Linked DNA regions of Homo sapiens. The protein of the gene in region 1 interacts with the protein of each later gene in a biochemical or structural test. Each region holds a gene or a part of one and is shown on either strand. Other genes may lie near its edges.

Evidence for each region.
Region 2: the proteins of DTL (region 1) and POLH form a complex in vitro, tested with the Homo sapiens proteins (one study listed by BioGRID).

Annotation. Positions count from the first base shown.
Region 1 is NC_000001.11:212,094,479-212,098,297, forward strand, and holds part of DTL (denticleless protein homolog), read left to right. Parts: intron 1-3,819. UniProt on the Homo sapiens protein: Substrate-specific adapter of a DCX (DDB1-CUL4-X-box) E3 ubiquitin-protein ligase complex required for cell cycle control, DNA damage response and translesion DNA synthesis.
Region 2 is NC_000006.12:43,582,382-43,586,200, reverse strand, and holds part of POLH (DNA polymerase eta), read right to left. Parts: coding exon 3,745-3,819; intron 3,195-3,744; coding exon 3,060-3,194; intron 1-3,059. UniProt on the Homo sapiens protein: DNA polymerase specifically involved in the DNA repair by translesion synthesis (TLS). Due to low processivity on both damaged and normal DNA, cooperates with the heterotetrameric (REV3L, REV7, POLD2 and POLD3) POLZ complex for complete bypass of DNA lesions.

The DNA.
Region 1 (3,819 bases):
TACCGTGCTATTTGAGTGACTATAGCCTTGTAGTGTAGTTTGAAGTCAGGTAATGTGATGCCTGCAGATTTGTTCTTTTTGCTTAGTCTTGCTTTGGCTATGTGGGCTGTTTTTTGGTTCCATATGACTTTTCAGATTGTTTTTTCTAGTTCTGTGAAGAACGATGATGGTATTTTGATGGGAATTGCATTGAATTTGTAGATTGCTTTTAGCAGTATAGTTATTTTCACAGCATTGATTCTACCCATCCTTGAGCGTAGGTTGTGTTTTTCCATTTGTTTGTGTCATCTGATTTCTTTTAGCAGTGTTTTGTAGTTTTCCTTGTAGAGGTCTTTTACTTCCTTAGTTAGGTATATTCCTAGGTTTTGCAGCTATTGTAAAAGGGGTTGAGTTGTTGATTTGATTTGCAGCTTGTTTGCTGTTGCTGTATAGCAGTACTACTGATTTATGTACATTGATTTTGTATCCTGAAACCTAACAGAATTCATTTATCAGATCTAGGAGCTTTTTGGATGAGTTTTTAGGGTTTTCTAGGTATACAATCATATCATTTACTAACAGTGACAGGTTGACTTCCTCTTTACCAATTTGGATGCCTTTTAATTTCTCTTTTCTGACTGACTGTGGCTGGCTAGGGCTTCCACTACTATGTTGAATAGAAGTGGTGAAAGTGGGCATCCTTGTCTTTTTCCAGTTCTCATGGGGAATGCTTTCAACTTTTCCCCGTTCAGTATAACGTTGGCTGTGGGTTTGTCATGGATGGCTTTTATTACCTTCAAGTATGTTCCTTCTATGCTGATTTTGCTGAGTGTTTTCATCATAAAGGGATGCTGGATTTTGTCAGACGTTTTTTCTGCTTCTATTGAAGTGATCATGTGTTTTCGTTTGTTTTTCTCTTAGAGTTTCGCTCTTGTTGCCCAGGCTGGGGTGCAGTGGTACCATCTCAGCTCACTGCAACCTCCACCACCCAGGTTCAAGGGATTCTCCTGCCTCAGCCTCCCAAGTAGCTGAGATACCACATCTGGCTAATTTTTGTATTTTTAGATGGGGTTTCACCATGTTGGCCAGGCTGGTCTCAAACTCCTGACCTCAAGTGATCTGCCCTCCTCGGCCTCCCAAAGTGCTGGGATTACAGGCATGAGCCACCGCACCCGGCCTGATTTTTGTTTTTAATTCTGTTTATATGGTGTATCACATGTATTGACTTGTGTATATTAAACTTTCCCTGCATCCCTGGTTTGAAATCCATTTGATCATGGTAGATTATCTTTTTGATATACTGTTGGATTTGGTTAGCTAGTATTTTGTTGAGGATTTTTGCATCTATGTTCATCAGGGATATTGGTCTGTAGTTTTCTTTTTTGTCATGTCCTTTCCTGGTTTTGGTATTAGAGTGATACTGGCTTCATAGGATGATTTAGGGAGTATTCCCTCTTTCTCTTTTGGAATGGTTTCAGTAAGATTGGTACCAGTTCTTCTTTGAATGTCTGATAGAATTCAGCAGTGAATCCATCTGGTCCTGGACTTTTTCTTCTTGGCAATTTTTTTATTACCATTTCAATCTAAGTGCTTGTTATTGGTCTGTTCAGAGTTCTTATTTCTTCCTGGTTTAATCTAGGAGGTTGTATATTTCCAGGAATTTATCCATCTCCTCTAGGTTTTCTAGTTTGTGAGCACAAATGTGTTCATAGTAGCCTTGAATGATCTTTTGTATTTCTGTGGTATTCGTTGTTAATATTTCCTGTTTCATTTCTAATTGAACTTATTTGGATCTTCTCTCTTCTTTTCTTGGTTAATCTCACTAATGGGCTATCAATTTTGTTTATCTTTTCAAAGAACCAGCTTTTTGTTTCATTTATCTTTTGTATTTTGTTGTTGTTGTTTCATTTTTATTAAGTTCTACTCTGGTCTTTGTTATATCTTTCCTCCTCCTGGGTTTGGGTTTGGTTTGTTCTTATTTCTCTAGTTCTTGAGGTGTGACCTTAGATTGTCAATTTGTGCTCTTTCAGACTTTTTGATGTAGGCACTTAATGCTGTGAACTTTCCTCTTAGCACTGCTTTTGCTGTATCTTAGAGGTTTTGTTAGGTTGTGTCACTTTTTTCATTCAGTTCAAAGAATTTTTTTAATTTCCAGCTTGATTTTGATTTCATTATTGACCCAAAGATCATTCAGGAGCGGATTATTTAATGTTGCATGGTTCTAAGAATTCCCTTTGGAGTTGACTTCCAATTTTATTCCACTATGGTCTGAGAGAGTACTTGATATAATTTTGATTTTCTTAAATTTATTGAGACTTGTTTTGTGGCCTATCATATGGTCTCTATCTTGGAGAATGTTCCATGAATGTTCTGATGAATAGAATGTATATTCTGCAGTTGTTGGGTAGAATGTTCTGTAAATACCTGTTAAGTCCATTTGTTCTAGGGTATAAGTCCATTGTTTCTATGTTGACTTACTGTATTGAAGTCCCCCACTATGAGATGAGATTCTATTTTTGTGTATTTCAAGGTTTTGCTCTAAGATTTAGAACTCCTTTTAGCAGTTTTTGTAAACTATGCTGGCTTGGTAGTGGCAAATTCTCTCAGCGTTTGAAAAAGACTTTCATCTTTTCTTCATTTATGAAGCTTAGTTTCACTGGATACAAAATTCTTGGCTGATAATTATTTTGTCAGCTAATAATTATTTAATAAGGCTAAAGATAAGACCTTTATCCCCTCTAGCTTGTAGAGTATCTGCTGTTAATCTGATAGGTTTTTCCTTTACAGGTTACCTGATGCTTTTGCCTCCCAGCTCTTAAGATTTTTTCCTTCATCTTGACTTTAGATAGCCTGATGACTGTGTGTCTAGGTGATGATCTTTTTGTGATGAATTTCCTGGGTGTTCTTTGAGCTTCTTGTATTTGGATGTCTAGATCTCGAGCAAGGCCAGAGAAGTTTTTATTCTTTTGCCTTTGTCTTTGTTGAATTGGGTTAATTCAAGAGCCTTGTCTTTGAGCTCCAAAATTCTTTCTTCTACTTGTTTGGTTCTATTGTTAAAACTTTCCAGTGTATTTTGCATTTCTCTAAATGTGTCTTTCATTTCCAGAAGTCATGATTGTTTTTTATTTATGATATCTATTTCTCTGGAGATTTTTTTCGTCTACATCCTGTTTTGTTTTATTTTTAAATTTAAGTTGGTTTTCATCTTTCTCTGGTGCTTCCTTGAGTAGCTTAATAATTGACCTTCTAAATTCTTTTCTGGCAATTCAAAGATTTATTATTGGTTTGGATCCATTGCTGGTAAGCTAGTATAATCTTTTAGGGGTGGTTATAGAACCTTGTTTTGTCATATTACCTGAATTGTTTTTCTGGTTCCTTCTCGTTTGGGTGGACTATGTCAGAAGAAAGATCTGGGACTCAATGTGTGCTGTTTAAATTCTTTTGTCCCACAGAGTGATCCCTTGGTGTGGTGCTCTCCCCCTTCCCTAGGGGTGGGGCTTTCTGAGAGCTGGACTGCAGTGATTGTTATTGCTCTTCTGGGTCGAGCCACCCAGCAGAGCTACTGGGTTCTAGGCTGGTACTGGAGAGTGTCTGCTAAGAGTCCTGTGATGTGATCTGTCTTCAGGTCTGTATGCCATGGATACTAGCACCTGCTCTAATGGAGGTGGTAGGAAAGGAGTGAAGTGGACTGTGTGAGAGTACTTGGTTGTAGTTTTATTTAGTGTACTGGTTGTCTTGAATGCTAGTTATACTAGCACTGAAGTTATTACATGGACAGACTCAGGACCTCTCTGGTTGGCCAAGATGTTACAGGCAGTAGAATTAGCTGTTATTTTCTGC
Region 2 (3,819 bases), on another chromosome or scaffold:
GGCCAATATACAGATATTTGCTTTCCTTTGGCTTGGACCTGCTTTGTAGTGTCCAGTTCTTTGTTCCTATTGACTTTATATTTACCATAAAAATGAAAACATCGGTACCTCTTCACCATGACACCCATAAAAACTAATATAATTATTGTTCTAAAACACTCTCAAATTAGAGAATTAGAGAAATACTTGACTTTTTTTTTTTTTAAATCATTATTTGAACTAGGAAGAGGATAGGCCTCAAAGAAAATAAAGAGCAAGATCGGGCGCAGCAGTTCACACCTGTAATCCCAGCACTTTGGGAGGCAGAGGTGGGTGGATCACCTGAGGTCAGGAGTTCGAGACCAGCCTGACCAACATGGAGAAACCCCATTTCTACTAAAAATATAAAATTAGCCAGCACGGTGGCACATGACTGTAATCCCAGCTACTCGGGAGGCTGAGGCAGGAGAATCACTTGAATCCAAGAGATGGAGGTTGTGGTGAGCCGAGATTGCACCATTGCACCCTAGCCTGGGCAACAAGAGTGAAACTCCGTCCCCCACCCACAAAAAAAAAAAAAAAAAGAAAAGAAAGAGCAATATACTCATACACACAGCCAGAAAAGGATACTTATAATATTGTGAAATATATATTCGGTCTTCATCCCAGTTTCCTGGCATACAACTCCAAAAATCCTTGGAATCACCCAAGTTTTGTCTTTTTGTATGCTAATGTTAACTAATAGCTTCAGGATAGGGCAGGTCACCAAAAAGACCACGGCATAATTAGAGGGTTGGGACTTTTGGCCCCACCCCCTCAACTTCTGGGGAGGGGAGAGGAAGAGAGATACTGCAGGTCAAGTTGATTACCCATAGCCAATGGTTTAATCAGTCATGAGTACATAACGGAGCCTCCCTAAAAACCCAAGAGGACAGGGTCCGGAGAGGTTCCAAATAGCTGTAATAGTAGAGATTCCTGGAGGGTGGCTCACCCAGGGAGGGCATGAAAGCTCCGCACCCCTTCTCACATGCCTTGCTCTATATATCTCTTCATCTTCATCTTCTTTTTGACAGGATCTCACTGTTGCCCAGGCTGCATGCAGTGGTTTGATCATGACTCTCTGGAACCACAATCTCCTGGGCTCAAGCGACCCTCCCACCTCAGCTTCCTGAGTAGCTGGAACTAGAGCTGCACAACACCATGTCTAGCTAAATTTTTTTGTTTTTGTTTTTGTTTTAATTTTGGTAGAGACGAGGTCTTACTATGTTGCCCAGGCTGGTCTCAAACTTCTGAGCTCAAGCAATCCTCCTGTCTCAGCCTCCCAAAGTGCTAGGATTACAGGCGTGAGCCACCATGCCCAACCTATCTGTATCCTTCGTAATATCCCTTATAATAAACATAAGTAAGTGTTCTCCTGAGTTCTGTGAGTCGCTTCAGCAAATTAATCAAATCCAAAGAGGGGGTTGCAGGAACCCCAACTTAAAGCCAGCTGTTCAGACGTTCTAAAGGCCTGGACTTGTGATGGAAAGGAAGGAGGGGGTGTTCTTGTGGTATTGAGCCCTCAACATGTGGAATCTGATGCCATCTCCAGGTAGACAGTGTTGGAATTGAGTGCGAGGACATGCAGCTGGTGTCTGCTGATTGGTGTGTGGGGAAATACTTCCACACCTTTGGTCACAGATGTCTTCTGTGTTGATTGTTCTTGTGGTGTGAGAGGAGAGGAAAACCATAGTTTGAGTTTTTCTAAAACAATACTCTATTTCAGTGCTTCCTCACAGCCTCTTGAGCAAATCACTGCAAGGTATTTTTAAGAGTATTTGGAAAACTTAATCTTCAGTCAAGTCTATCTTCTTTTCTAGCAATAATTCCAATGTGGGTCTGTATGCCACTCTACCTTTAGACTTCTAATTCATAGAATTAGAATTAGAATTCAGAAGTATGTCAGGTCCTAAGTCAAAGCATGATTCCTATACCACAACACATAGTATAGTGTACCTTGAGAACATAGATACTAGAATCTTAAAAAACAGATGTGAATCCTCAGTCTTTCACTTAGCTGTCTGAACTTTTCTCTTTCTTGAGACAGGGTCTCACTCTGTCACCCAGACCGGAGTGCAGTGGTGTGATCTGGGCCCACTGCAACCTCTGCCTCCCAGGCTCAAGCAATCCTCTCAACTCAGCTTCCTGAGTAGCCGGGACTGCAAGTGTGTGCCACCATGCCTGGCTAATTTTTGTATTTTCTGTTAGAGATGGGGTTTCCCCATGTTGCCCAGGCTGGTCCCTATGTTGCCCAGGCTGGTGTCCTGGACTCAAGTGATCTGCCCGCCTCAGCCTCCCTAAATGCTAGGATTACAGGCATGAGCCACCATCCCCAGCCTAACTTAAATTATTTAACTTCTCTGAACTTGATTCCTTATCTGTGAAGGGGGAGTAATATTAGTACCTACCTTATAACAATGTCAGATTTAATAGAGATATTGCCTATAGAGAGCTTAACACTGTGCCTGGCATGTGATAATATGTTTAATACATATTAGCTGTTAGGATTAAAGGCTGGGGTTTGTGCCTACCTCTGACTTAGCTATGCTGATTCATATCCCCCATTCCAAGGTGAAACTTCTAATATTTGCGGAGAGATAGCTTAATCTAAAAACAGAGAAATCTCCCTTGATATTGTTCAATTATAGCAACTAATTCCTGATATTGTACTACAATGTCAGTTTGACTCAGCCTTTCCTGGAAAAATTCTCAGTTTCACAGTCAATTTTTCAAATACTTTAGATTTTTGGATGGAGAACATGGGAATTGGTATTAAGTCTGAATTTAACAACCAATTTTGAACAATTAAGGAACTGAATAGATATCAAAGGCAGCAACTCTTATATGGTATAATGGTTTTGAACTGTCCCCAAAACACAATATTAAAATCTGTTTTTCATTTCACAGAGACAAGATGGCTAACCAAAAAGAATTTTTTCCGGTGTTATTTACATGGAACAAATTCAAAACACCAGTTCCTAGCCTCATGGAGTATTATTTTCGACTCCTTTATGTCTCCTTAAATAATGTTTTTTTCTTACTTGGTGAGGTTAGCTTTCCCACGGGACTCACGAACTTGTGCCAGTAGAAGATCTGGACATAACTTCTTAGCATCATCTGCCCACATACTTCTAGTGACTCCAAATGCACGAGCTTCATAACTCACTGCAATTATTCTAAGGTTAGAAAAAAAAGGAAACAGAAAACATATTATATGATCACAAGCAAAAACAAGTAACATTTAACACAAGTAATCTATAAACATATTAGAAACTTTTTGACCACAGATGCCATCATTCAATCCAAAACAAAGCAGTTCAGAAATCTCAAAAATAGGGCCAGGCACAGCAGCTCATGCTGGCAATTCCTGTACTTTGGGAGGCCAAGGCAGAAGGACTGCTTGAGGCCGGGAGTTCAAGACCTGCTTGGGCAATATAGTGAGCCCTGCCCCCCCAACCAATCCCCATCTCTACCCACCCCCCAAAAAATAAAATCAGCTTGGCATGGTGGGGCGCTCCTGTAGTTCTAACTATTTGGGAGACTGAAGAGGGATGATCACTTGAGCCCAGGTCAAAGCTGCTGTGAGCTGATGGTGCCACTGCGCTCTGGATGGGACAACAGAGAAAGGCCCTGTCACCACCACCACCACCACCACAACAACAAAGGACCTGCCACAGTGCCACTGTGTTACCATTGAATAGTTGTGACAATAACAATGATACATACCCACCACCCTTCCATGATTTGTACTGTACAACTGCACAAGGTTTATTCCTCAAATGAGGATTTTGCCGCTGCTCC